Homo sapiens: one gene and its partners. The protein of the gene in region 3 interacts with the protein of the main gene of each other region in a pairwise test. Each region holds a gene or a part of one and is shown on either strand. Other genes may lie near its edges. The genes, in order: APOD, GPM6B and ERGIC3.

Evidence for each region.
Region 1: the proteins of ERGIC3 (region 3) and APOD interact in binary tests that used the Homo sapiens proteins (3 or more experiments, as listed by UniProt).
Region 2: the proteins of ERGIC3 (region 3) and GPM6B interact in binary tests that used the Homo sapiens proteins (3 or more experiments, as listed by UniProt).

What each region holds. Positions count from the first base shown.
Region 1 is NC_000003.12:195,570,918-195,573,940, forward strand, and holds part of APOD (apolipoprotein D precursor), read right to left. Parts: coding exon 2,933-3,023; intron 449-2,932; coding exon 360-448; intron 1-359. UniProt on the Homo sapiens protein: APOD occurs in the macromolecular complex with lecithin-cholesterol acyltransferase. It is probably involved in the transport and binding of bilin. Appears to be able to transport a variety of ligands in a number of different contexts.
Region 2 is NC_000023.11:13,772,067-13,775,721, forward strand, and holds part of GPM6B (neuronal membrane glycoprotein M6-b), read right to left. Parts: intron 2,559-3,655; coding exon of another isoform or gene 2,478-2,558; exon of another isoform or gene 965-2,477; coding exon 815-964; 3' UTR 1-814. UniProt on the Homo sapiens protein: May be involved in neural development. Involved in regulation of osteoblast function and bone formation. Involved in matrix vesicle release by osteoblasts; this function seems to involve maintenance of the actin cytoskeleton.
Region 3 is NC_000020.11:35,555,018-35,558,201, reverse strand, and holds the end of ERGIC3 (endoplasmic reticulum-Golgi intermediate compartment protein 3), read right to left. Parts: intron 3,159-3,184; coding exon 3,127-3,158; intron 2,170-3,126; coding exon 2,073-2,169; intron 1,996-2,072; coding exon 1,931-1,995; intron 1,230-1,930; coding exon 1,093-1,229; intron 1,009-1,092; coding exon 953-1,008; intron 778-952; coding exon 698-777; 3' UTR 568-697; downstream 1-567. UniProt on the Homo sapiens protein: Possible role in transport between endoplasmic reticulum and Golgi. Positively regulates trafficking of the secretory proteins SERPINA1/alpha1-antitrypsin and HP/haptoglobin.

The DNA of each region.
Region 1 (3,023 bases), on a different chromosome or scaffold from region 3:
ATGTTTCGGGCCCCAGTTTCCTTTGGGAAACAAGACTGGGTTGTGTCTTCTGCAGCCCACACCCGGTGTGCACCTACTTGTGTTTCACCTGTTGAAACGCTAGCTAGTTATAGTAAATTGCGGGGTCACGTGTCAGTATCCACACTGGGATGTGAGCTCCATAAGTACCAAGGCCAGCTCTGTCCGGCTCATCATGGCAACCCTAGTGCGTGACATGTAGTAAGTGTTTGACAGATAATTATGTGCTGAGTGATTATAGATGACACTCAGGTGTCTCAGGAATTCTCCAAGCCGGGGCGCTAGCCTTCAGTTTGCATATTTCCTGTCCCTGAATCCTCCTGGGAAAAGTGGATACTTACACCAGGAAAACTTAACTTCCAGCTTGGCAGGCTCTGTGAGGTTAACTGGGGTGGCTTCACCTTCGATTTGATTCACAGTTCCATCAGCTCTGCAGTGAGTTAAAAAAAGAAAAAATACAAAAAACGAAAAGAGAAAAGAAAAACAACTCATTGAAAGCCAATAAGCAACGAAAGGCAAGATTTGTGCCACTAAGGACCGTGGCAGCCAACACCGTGATTTCTGGTAAGAGAGGCTCTCAAAGGCAGGCTAGACCCTAGCTCCATGGCCTGGCCTTTCCCTTGTGACTGTCTCTGAGGCCAAGCAGGGGAAGAGAGCAGCGGGGTGATAAGAAGCCGCAATTGACAAGCTCCAGGATGGGACAGTATGTTAGGCCCTTGCACTTCAACACTATCTCTGACTATCTTCTATGGCCTGAAAGACCAATTCCTGCTCCCAGTCTCCAAAGAAAGGGAGAAAAGAGAATGGAAAAACAAACAAAACAACCCAACACACAAAGAAGATTCACTTTTTTTTTTTTTTGGAGATGGAGTCTTGCTCTGTCCCCCAGGCTGGAGTGCAGTGGTGCGATCTCGGCTTACTGCAACCTCTGCCTCCCCGGTTCAAGCAATTCTCCTCCCTCAGCCTCCCCAGGAGCTGAGATTACAGGCATGCACCACCACGCCTGGCTAATTTTTTGTATCTTTAGTAGAGACGGGGTTTCACCATGTTAGCCAGGCTGGTCTCAAACTCCTGACCTCAGGCAATCTACCTGCCTCAGCCTCCCAAAGTGCTGGGATTACAGGCGTGAGCCGCCGTGCCTGGCAGATTCACTTCTTTTTAAAACGAGAAGGGCCAAAGGTACAGATGAGGATGGACTTGATCACTGAAAATAATTCAAAACAAGGAGACATAAAAGCGTTCCCCTTCTTTGGGCCTCAGTGATATCATGTGACATCGCCTGTCCCATCAAGGGGCCTGAGTCCAGAGACTCCCTCTAGTTCAGCAAGCCTCTGAGTGAGTGTGGGGGATTTCAATGTAGGCCAAGTAAAAGGAGGCAGTGAAGAAACATTTACTTTATCTCAGTGATTCTCAGGTATGCCCAGATTTCAGAGACATTAAATGTGAAGAAATGCATATCTCACAATTGATGTCACCTGACAATTAGCAGTGTCATTCCTTTCTTAGTGGCATATAACGCAGTGGTGTGTCTTAAAAGCTGGGGGCTTAGATTGGATGCAATACTTTCACCTCTTTGAATGAGCCTGCTTTCTAGATGACTCCCAATGGCCCCATGAACTTGGGAGAAGGGGAAAGGTGTGGAGATGGAGGCACCAAAGGGAGGGTGCTAAGGCATCAGGGTGCTCTTCCTAGGAAGCCAACAGAGGAGAGGATGTCTGTTTATCAATCCTCAAGGCAGAGCAGGGAGGCCAACTGAAATTAGAGCAGTCGTATGTGTTAGAAAGTCAGTAGGTTGGCCGGGCGTGGTGGCTCACGCCTGTAATCCCAGCACTTTGGGAGGCCAAGGGGGGGCGGATCACAAGGTCAGGAGATCAAGACCAGCCTGGCCAACACAGTGAAACCCCGTCTCTACTAAAATACAATTAAAAAAAAAAAAGAAAGTCAGTAGGTTAATGCTATGGTTAGTGGTGACGGATGTCCTAGAAACAGGACAATGAGCAACAGGCCAGGGATTCTGGGAACTGTGCTCTGATGTTCCCAAGTACTTTCTCTGTTTATCACCATGTAAAGCTGGAGACCGTGCCCTCCTCTCTCATCTGGATCTCAGACAGCTGGGGAAGATGGTCTGTTTCTATCTGCATACGTTAACTTAGCAACAAACCAGTCTCCTCCCAGCAGATTCTGCCCTTTTCACCGTCAATTGCATTTTGCTCTAGAACGGTTTTCAGGACACCAGTCTCTGACCATGAAGTCACAACATGTTCATGGAAAAACTGCATTTGTATTTTCAAGAGTGGAAGGTGGGTAGGAAGGAGCTCTTCCTGGGGCTCTTTTTAAGTTTATAGTTGCTTTCCAAAGCGTAGCTTTTTGGATTAATTATTGTGTTAGAAGCCCTCAGTAATAGAAATGTACACTTCTAAAGGATATCCTGTTTACATAACCTAGAGTGTGAATGTTGTGTATGTGATTCTTGCTTAATAAGAAAAGGAGCTTTCTGATAGATTAAGCTGCCCAGAGATGGGATGAACTGTCCTGGAAGGCGATGAGCTCCCAGTTCCTGGAAGTGTTTGAACAAAGCTGGATGCTTCTGTCAGCAGATGGTGTCGAAGCGGCTTCTCTCCCAGACTGGAGGTCAGAAGAGATGGTCTTGATGTTCTTTGCTACCAGAGTATCTATTTTGCAGTGAGTGCAGGAACCCTGTCAGTTTGTGCCCCGCAGGTGGTCATGGAAATGCATAAGTGGATCCTAGTCCTTGCCATCCTTGCCTGCCAAACGCTTTCCTCTCAATTCCTGCTAGGAGCAGGCAGTCCCGATCCAGCAAGGTTCCCATCCTCCCTGACCCAGGCTGCCGGACACCCAGTCACTCTGCATCAGCACTCCGCAGGCCTGGCCCCGGACGCCCACAGCCACTCACCTCAACTCCTGGTTTAACACTTTGATCTTTCCGTTTTCCATTAGTGAGTAGTTGGCCTGGATGCAGCGTCCATTCTCAAAGGTTGTTGGGA
Region 2 (3,655 bases), on a different chromosome or scaffold from region 3:
TGGGTCTCTAGTTATGATATAAATTCTTAGAAATTTAAAGCAAATACTCATTAAGGCAAAGCTGACATTTCTCAAGAATAATGAAAATTGGATCAGTATTTTGTTAAAATGAAATCTGTTATAAAATTGCTTCTGGAAAGCTTGTCAGTGAGTCCAGCATCCAGATTCTTTAATAGTAGGGTCAGCAGAATTGTAGCTAATTTTAGCATTATTGAAAAATATATTTCTGATTGGCTCAGGAAATTAATGGGTCCTGGACTTGGGAGGGAAAAGCTAGTTTGAGAAATCAATCATAAGAATCACATTATCTTTGATCCAAAGTTTAATAAATGTCAGCTGTCAGAAATGGAACTTTACATCAATTCCATTTTATTTCCTATGTAGATAACACTTGAGGACAGATGGCATATATGTGAATTTACGGTCTTATCCCTTGATGCTGGGCATGTCACAGGTCCTTATTAAGGAGTCACAGGTCCCTATTAAGGAGTGTGACATATTCCATTGAGTGTCTTGGTAGAATTGCCCTAGCAATAAATGTGAACATGCCACAAATTCCCAAAGTATGAACGATCATTTTGTCAAAGTGTTGCCTTTTAAAATGGCTAACATGAAACCTCCAATATTTGTTCTAAAGAAAAAGATTTACCCACTGGAAGGTTTTCCTAGAGATACATCCCAGCAGCTTGAGACAGACAGTGAAGTGTTTGTACATCTACATTAGTTTGGTGGGATACACATCTGTACTGCAGAGCAGCTGTCTGATGATTTGTCAGAGCTGTAAATACGTCGGCCGAAACACTCTGGCAAACATTTATGTGTAAGAATTGAGTTGTTCTTTTGACCGAGACTGGATATCTTGCAGTTCCTGTTCTTCCTTTGCTTTGATATCCTGGTAAGCCTGCATTTTGCTCGCATCCTTTAAGTAAGCCCAGTTAGAAGACAGTATCATGAGGAAGTGGATCTGGAAGAGAAGGGTGAGCATGATGGCTAGTGAGCATTGTGAGAAGGCAAAGCGAGGCGCTAGTTAGATTAGACAGACTTGACTTTAAAGGGGCGAAGGTTAATTCTGTATTAATAAATACTCGCTCTACTAGCAGAGCTGTCAGATCCTGAAAGCATGCTCTACTAGTTGGCTTCGCATTAAAAGGCTGAAGAAAAGTTAGTATACAAACATAGTGAACTGGAAAAAAATGGCCAAAGGTATTGTTAAGAAAAAGCAAAAATGAAATACGAGAGGGTGCTTTTTTTTTTTTTTTTAATACCATTTTGAGAGTAATTTTAAAGACTAATGCGAAAGTTCGGGAGCACATTGTATATTTGAAATAAGTGTAGTGTGTGCAAAGACCATTTTCTACCTGTGGATAAAAATCAATTCCCCCAAAGGCCTAAAAGCATGAACAATGTTTATTTTGAGTAAATAATTAAACTACATATTTAACATGGAAAAAATTAAATGAATGTCAAAACCAAAATTAAGAACTATAAGCAAAGCATGCAGTCTCTGTTAACAAAACTTAGTTGTGAAACTACATTTTTCATTTTGTAAATGCCATTATTTCATTTCATAAAATGTAAAAATCCTCAGTATCATTCTTTACACTTGATGCGGCAAACACTTCTTTCCTATTTTCCTCGTATTTCCTGCAAAATAAATCTACATCTCAAGTTCCTTATAGTTCATACTTTCTTCTCAACATATTTGAGACCTTCAGGTCCAGGCCTATTTTCTCTTCCCGTTAAAATCTTACATGCAGCTTGAGAACTAGCTATGAGGAAACAGTTAGTTATTACTTACCAAAACACACAATTTAAGGTTACCAATTTTGTGGGCTCTAACAGAATGATTGTGTTGTACCAAAAAAAAAACTACCCACATATAAATCCTTTTTTTTTTTTTTTTTTTTTTTTTTCCAGAGAACTGGGTGACCTTTTTCTTCAAATTTTCATCTGGCTTATTTGAGGGTCATTTGGTAGTGAACCATGTGATCATAAAAAAATTGTTTTCAATTTAGAACATATTTGCAAAGTATTTTCCAGGTGTGACAAAACAAAATCCAGATTAAAACGGTTCTCTTCCATTTCATCTTCAGCACTTGTTTTCATTTTCATCATTGAAACTGGTTATCAGGCAATCAAAAATAACAGAAAATGTAAGTATTCCAAAGTGTTAATAATTCATTTAAAGATACTGCTCTCTAATGTTTAAGTATGAGAACATTATTTTAAAAAGGATGCTCACCACTGTCAGTAAATAACTGAATCCTTTTCAAAATGTGGAAATAGCCACCAGATCTCATTATTGTGTAATTCATGTACAGTAAGTCATCTTATTAATCTACCATGCAAGGTGAGTTTACTAAAGCTATTTACAAATTACTGTAACAAAATTGCAGAAACCTAGACTCTGCTTTAGTCTGGAGTGTCAGTGATATTTCATGCTACAGAGCATAGCTCTCTAAAACTCCTTATGCAATTTAGAATTTAGTGCAGCAATCTTCCCGACTCTTAAACTTCAAAACCGCATAGTTATATGTAGTAGCCATCATGTAGATCAGCTGGTGGAAGAGAACAAAACAGGACAGTAAGATACAGGCAGTGAGGGCCGATGCCATGACACTTCTAAACTTGGGTGGGGACGGGTGCCTGCTCATAGTCTAAGGTGTTTTTTTCCCACTTAAAATCACAACAGACAATTTTCCTATCTAGCACACACAAACTTTTTCTCATCACACATGTACAATGTAAGTCATTGGTTCTGCCCTCAGTGAGTTTACTAAAAGGACTTGGATGCGTTTCAAGAATAACAAGACAGAGAGCTGGGTCAACAGCATGAGAAGGATGAAGCTAAATGCCTTAATCCTCTCATCTTTCCAAAACCACCTGCTCAGCAGCAGGCAGTTATCTTTCCTCCCTGTTGCTCAACCAAAAGAACAGGTCACCCCATGATTTTAAAGGTGGTTTTTTTCATAGATTCTAAGGGGATTTAATGGTCAGAAAAACTGGGAATGAATAATTTACAAGCAGCTGAGATTTTTCCCTTGCTCTACCAATCTTAGTTGGTTTTCCTGAAATCACAAACCAAGCCCTCCAAAATTACATGTATACAAACATACATACATAAGAGCGTGTATTTATACAGTTGATTTTCATTACTTGTAGATTCCACATTTGTGACTGCCTACTTGCTAAGATTCATTTGTAATCCTTAATACTTGAGGCACTTCTTTCGCAGTTATTAGCAGACATGTGCAGAGCGGTGAAAGTTGAGTTGCCCGGTATGCACATTCCCAGCTGAGGCTGAACAAGGCAATACTCTGCCTTCTTGTTTCAGCTCTCAGACTGTAAATAAGTATACTCGAAGTATATTTAGTGCCACGTTTTTCACATTTTTGTGCATTTTGTGGGTGATTTTGCTGCTTAAAATGGCTCCCAAGCATAGTGCTGCAGTGCTGTCTAGAGTCCCTAAGTGCAAGAAGGTTGCAAACTGCCTGACCAGAGAAAATGTTCATTAGAGAAGCTTCATTCAGGCATAGGGATAGAGCTATTGGCCATGAATTCAATATTAAGGAATCAACAATATATATTAAATACGGTGTATTTACACAGAAACACACGAAACAAGCTTATGTGTTGATAGGTTGCTGAAAATGAT
Region 3 (3,184 bases):
GGGGTCTGGTGCTGGCCCTGCTCCAGAATGGCCACTGACTGCTACTTTCGCACCTCAGTGTTCAGTTTTGCTTCCATCTAGACTGCAGAGGACCTGGAGGGATTCCTCTCTGCAGTGAGAGCCAGCGTGGGGTTTGGCACAGAGTGGGATCAGTGAGTGTGACAGGATCAGGTGTATTGAGCCCAGGGTGGCGGAGAGCGGCCCCAGCTTTACCCATCAATGAAGAAGTGGCAAGCCCCAATATGCACTCAGGGCCCTGAATTAGTGGCCTGGGGTTGATCACTCATGAGCCTGGGGGCCATGGTGGCTCCAGGAAGCTCACGCTGAAAAGGTCCATCTGAGCCCTGGGGCTGAACCCGAGAGGCCTGAGGACCACAGTGGAGGAGGGACCCAGGACAGGGCTGTGGGCTGGACATGAACCTGGTTTGAATAAACCCCGGTTAACTAGGGGATGCCCATGTGGGGCTCCCGAGGGCTCTGGGCCCCGATCTGTCAGTCACAATTGCCTTCAATGAGTGGCCAGGATGAGGCTCTGGCCATGGCAAGGATCACACGGAGACCAGTGAGTACTATCACAATCAATCAATAGATTTATCAACCTGGGGCTGGGGCTGACCGAGGAGGTGGAGGGTGGCAGAGGCTGGGGGACAACCACAGGCCAGGGAGAAAGAGGAGACAGAGGAAGCACCGAGGGTGACTACGTTGTCTTCCCTAGATCAATTTTCTTCTGGATGGCTCGTGCTGAGTGGTAGATGAGCGAATCGATGAGTCCAGCCACTGGGAGAGAGACAAGGGCTGGCACTGGCCCAGTGGGGGCCTTGGCTTTTGACGCTGAGAGCCTTGTCACTTAACTGGCCAGGCCAGCATCTGCCCCTTCACCCCCAACCAAACCTGGGGCACCCAGGCTTTACCCTCCCCACCCCACAGCTCACAGACGCCCTGGGCCTCTTACCTGTGAACATGCCCCCAATGATGGCGCACACACCTGTCAGGAAGTGGGTGAAGGACCTGGTAGAAGGAGAGGGTGGGCTCAGCAGGCATCCTCCTCCCTCAGGCCCAGGCCCCCAGAGGCCGCTTTGCCCCCATCCTCACCTGTGCTTCTCCGTCAGCTTCACCATCATGGGCGAGAGCTCATAGAGGACGAAGACTCCGGGAAGGCCTTGGTCGCCCAACAGCCCATTGGCAACCTTCTCATGTCTGGTCACAGAGAACTGATTTGTCCTCAGTACCTGGGGTGGGAGGGGAGCCTGGGCCAGGGCTAGGGCTAGGACCTGGCTCCAGCCACCATCAGCCCCACCCCTGCTCCTTCCCCTTTCCTGTTGAGCCTTGGCCGTGTAAGGAGAGAACACAGCACCGTGCTAGTGGCCTGCACTGCAAGGCCTGGCCCGCCAGACCCCCTCTCCTAGTCTTGGCCTCAGCCTTCCCCTCCAGGTGCCAAGTCTTTACAGTTTACCTATCCTGGCAGCATTTGGTGGGTGTTCTCACGGGGGTCCAGGCTGAGAAGCAGCTCTCCAAAGACGCACCAAGGCTGACCTGACTTCCTCTGCCCTCAGCCCCTCGCATCCTGCCACTCTGCTGAGATGCTGCTCCACAGGCCAGGGCAGCCTTGGGAGCGGGTACACAGAGACTTGCCTTGCCTAACCCCCAGCCCAGGCAGACCACAGAGAACAGTGAGGCAGGCAGACGGTGGGCACCGGAGGAACGGATAGAAGCGGTGAGGGCAGCAGAAAGAGCAGGCGCTTTAAATCTAACAGCCCCAGGCCTGCACTCTGCCTGGGAGGGCAAATCCCCCACCCTCTCTGTGCCTCAGTCTTTTATTCGCCATGTGAGGACGAGGCAGCTTTCACTCCCCAGGCTGACGGAACGAAATGCAGGAACTCCAGTGCTTGGCACCGCGCAGGAGACTCTGGTAGGGAGCTCCCTGACTCACCTCTCCGTCCACCTTCATGTACACAGTGGGCACCACCTTCACAAAGTACTGGAACATCATGGAGGCTGAGGGGAAAACAAAGCACTGGGTATGGGTGCCCGGCCGGCCTTCTGCGGCTGGGGGCTGCCTCCCGGGCTGGTACCTTGGGGCGCAGTGACATTGGTGTGGTCCAGGGGGTTCACAATGCCTGGATAGTCCTCCCCAAATGACAGGTGCTGGATGTAGTGGGTCATGTTGATCTGTAAACAACACCATCCAGAGCTCATCCAAAGCTCTGATGACAGTAGCAGACAGGGACACCTGGGTCCGTCTGCGGAGATGTGGGAGGAAGGGGAGGCTATGGTCCTAAGGGGACAACCTCCCCGAGATAAGAATCCCCCATTCCCTGCCTAGAAACTCCTCCTTCCACAGCCTGCAAACTCCTGGGGTTCCAGATTTTTCTTTTTTTTTTTTTTTTTTGAGACAAGGTCTCACTCTGTTGCCCAGGCTGGAGAGCAGTGGCATGATCTTGGCTCACTGCAGCCTCGCCTTATTCAAGCGATTCTCTTGCCTCAGCCTCCTGAGTAGCTGGGATTACAAGCATGAGCCACCATGCCTGGCCAGGTTCCAGATTTCTTAAAATACCAGCTTCACTTGTACGTTAGGCACACAGAGTAGCAGGTGCTGGCTTTGCCTGGAGGCCTAGGCTGGAGGCTGTGAACCCCCAGATACACTCCCTTCCTGCTCCCTTGTGTATCAGCCTCAGACACTAGAAGGATCTTTCCTAAAATGCAAATCTGATTATGTCGTGATCCTGCTTAAAGAAGGCCAACAGCTTTCCACTGTTCTCATGAGAAAGATGTGATTCCTCAGCGTGGCCTCTGAGTCCGGTGTGGTCTGGTCCCTGCCGACTTCTCCAGCCTCACCCATCCACACCTGCCCCGCAGTTCCTTAGAAGGGCCATGCTCCCGCCTGACCTTGCGCTGAGGCTCTGTCTGTCTAGGATGCTCTTATCCAACCCCAATCTTGCCCCTAGCCTGCTCAGAGTTCAGTTCAAAAGTCACTCTCGCTTAACCCTCAGGCTGGATCCCCATTCAGAACGTGGTGTATTTTTCCATATGCACTACCCCATCCCAGGATGTTCCTACAAGGAAATGAAGGCAGCAACCAAGCCTCCCACCCCCACCTGCCCTCCATGGTTTCCATCTGGTACGTACGTTGTCAAGGCCAAAGCTCTGCAAGTCATGGACTAGGAGAGAAGGGAGAAGGCAAGGG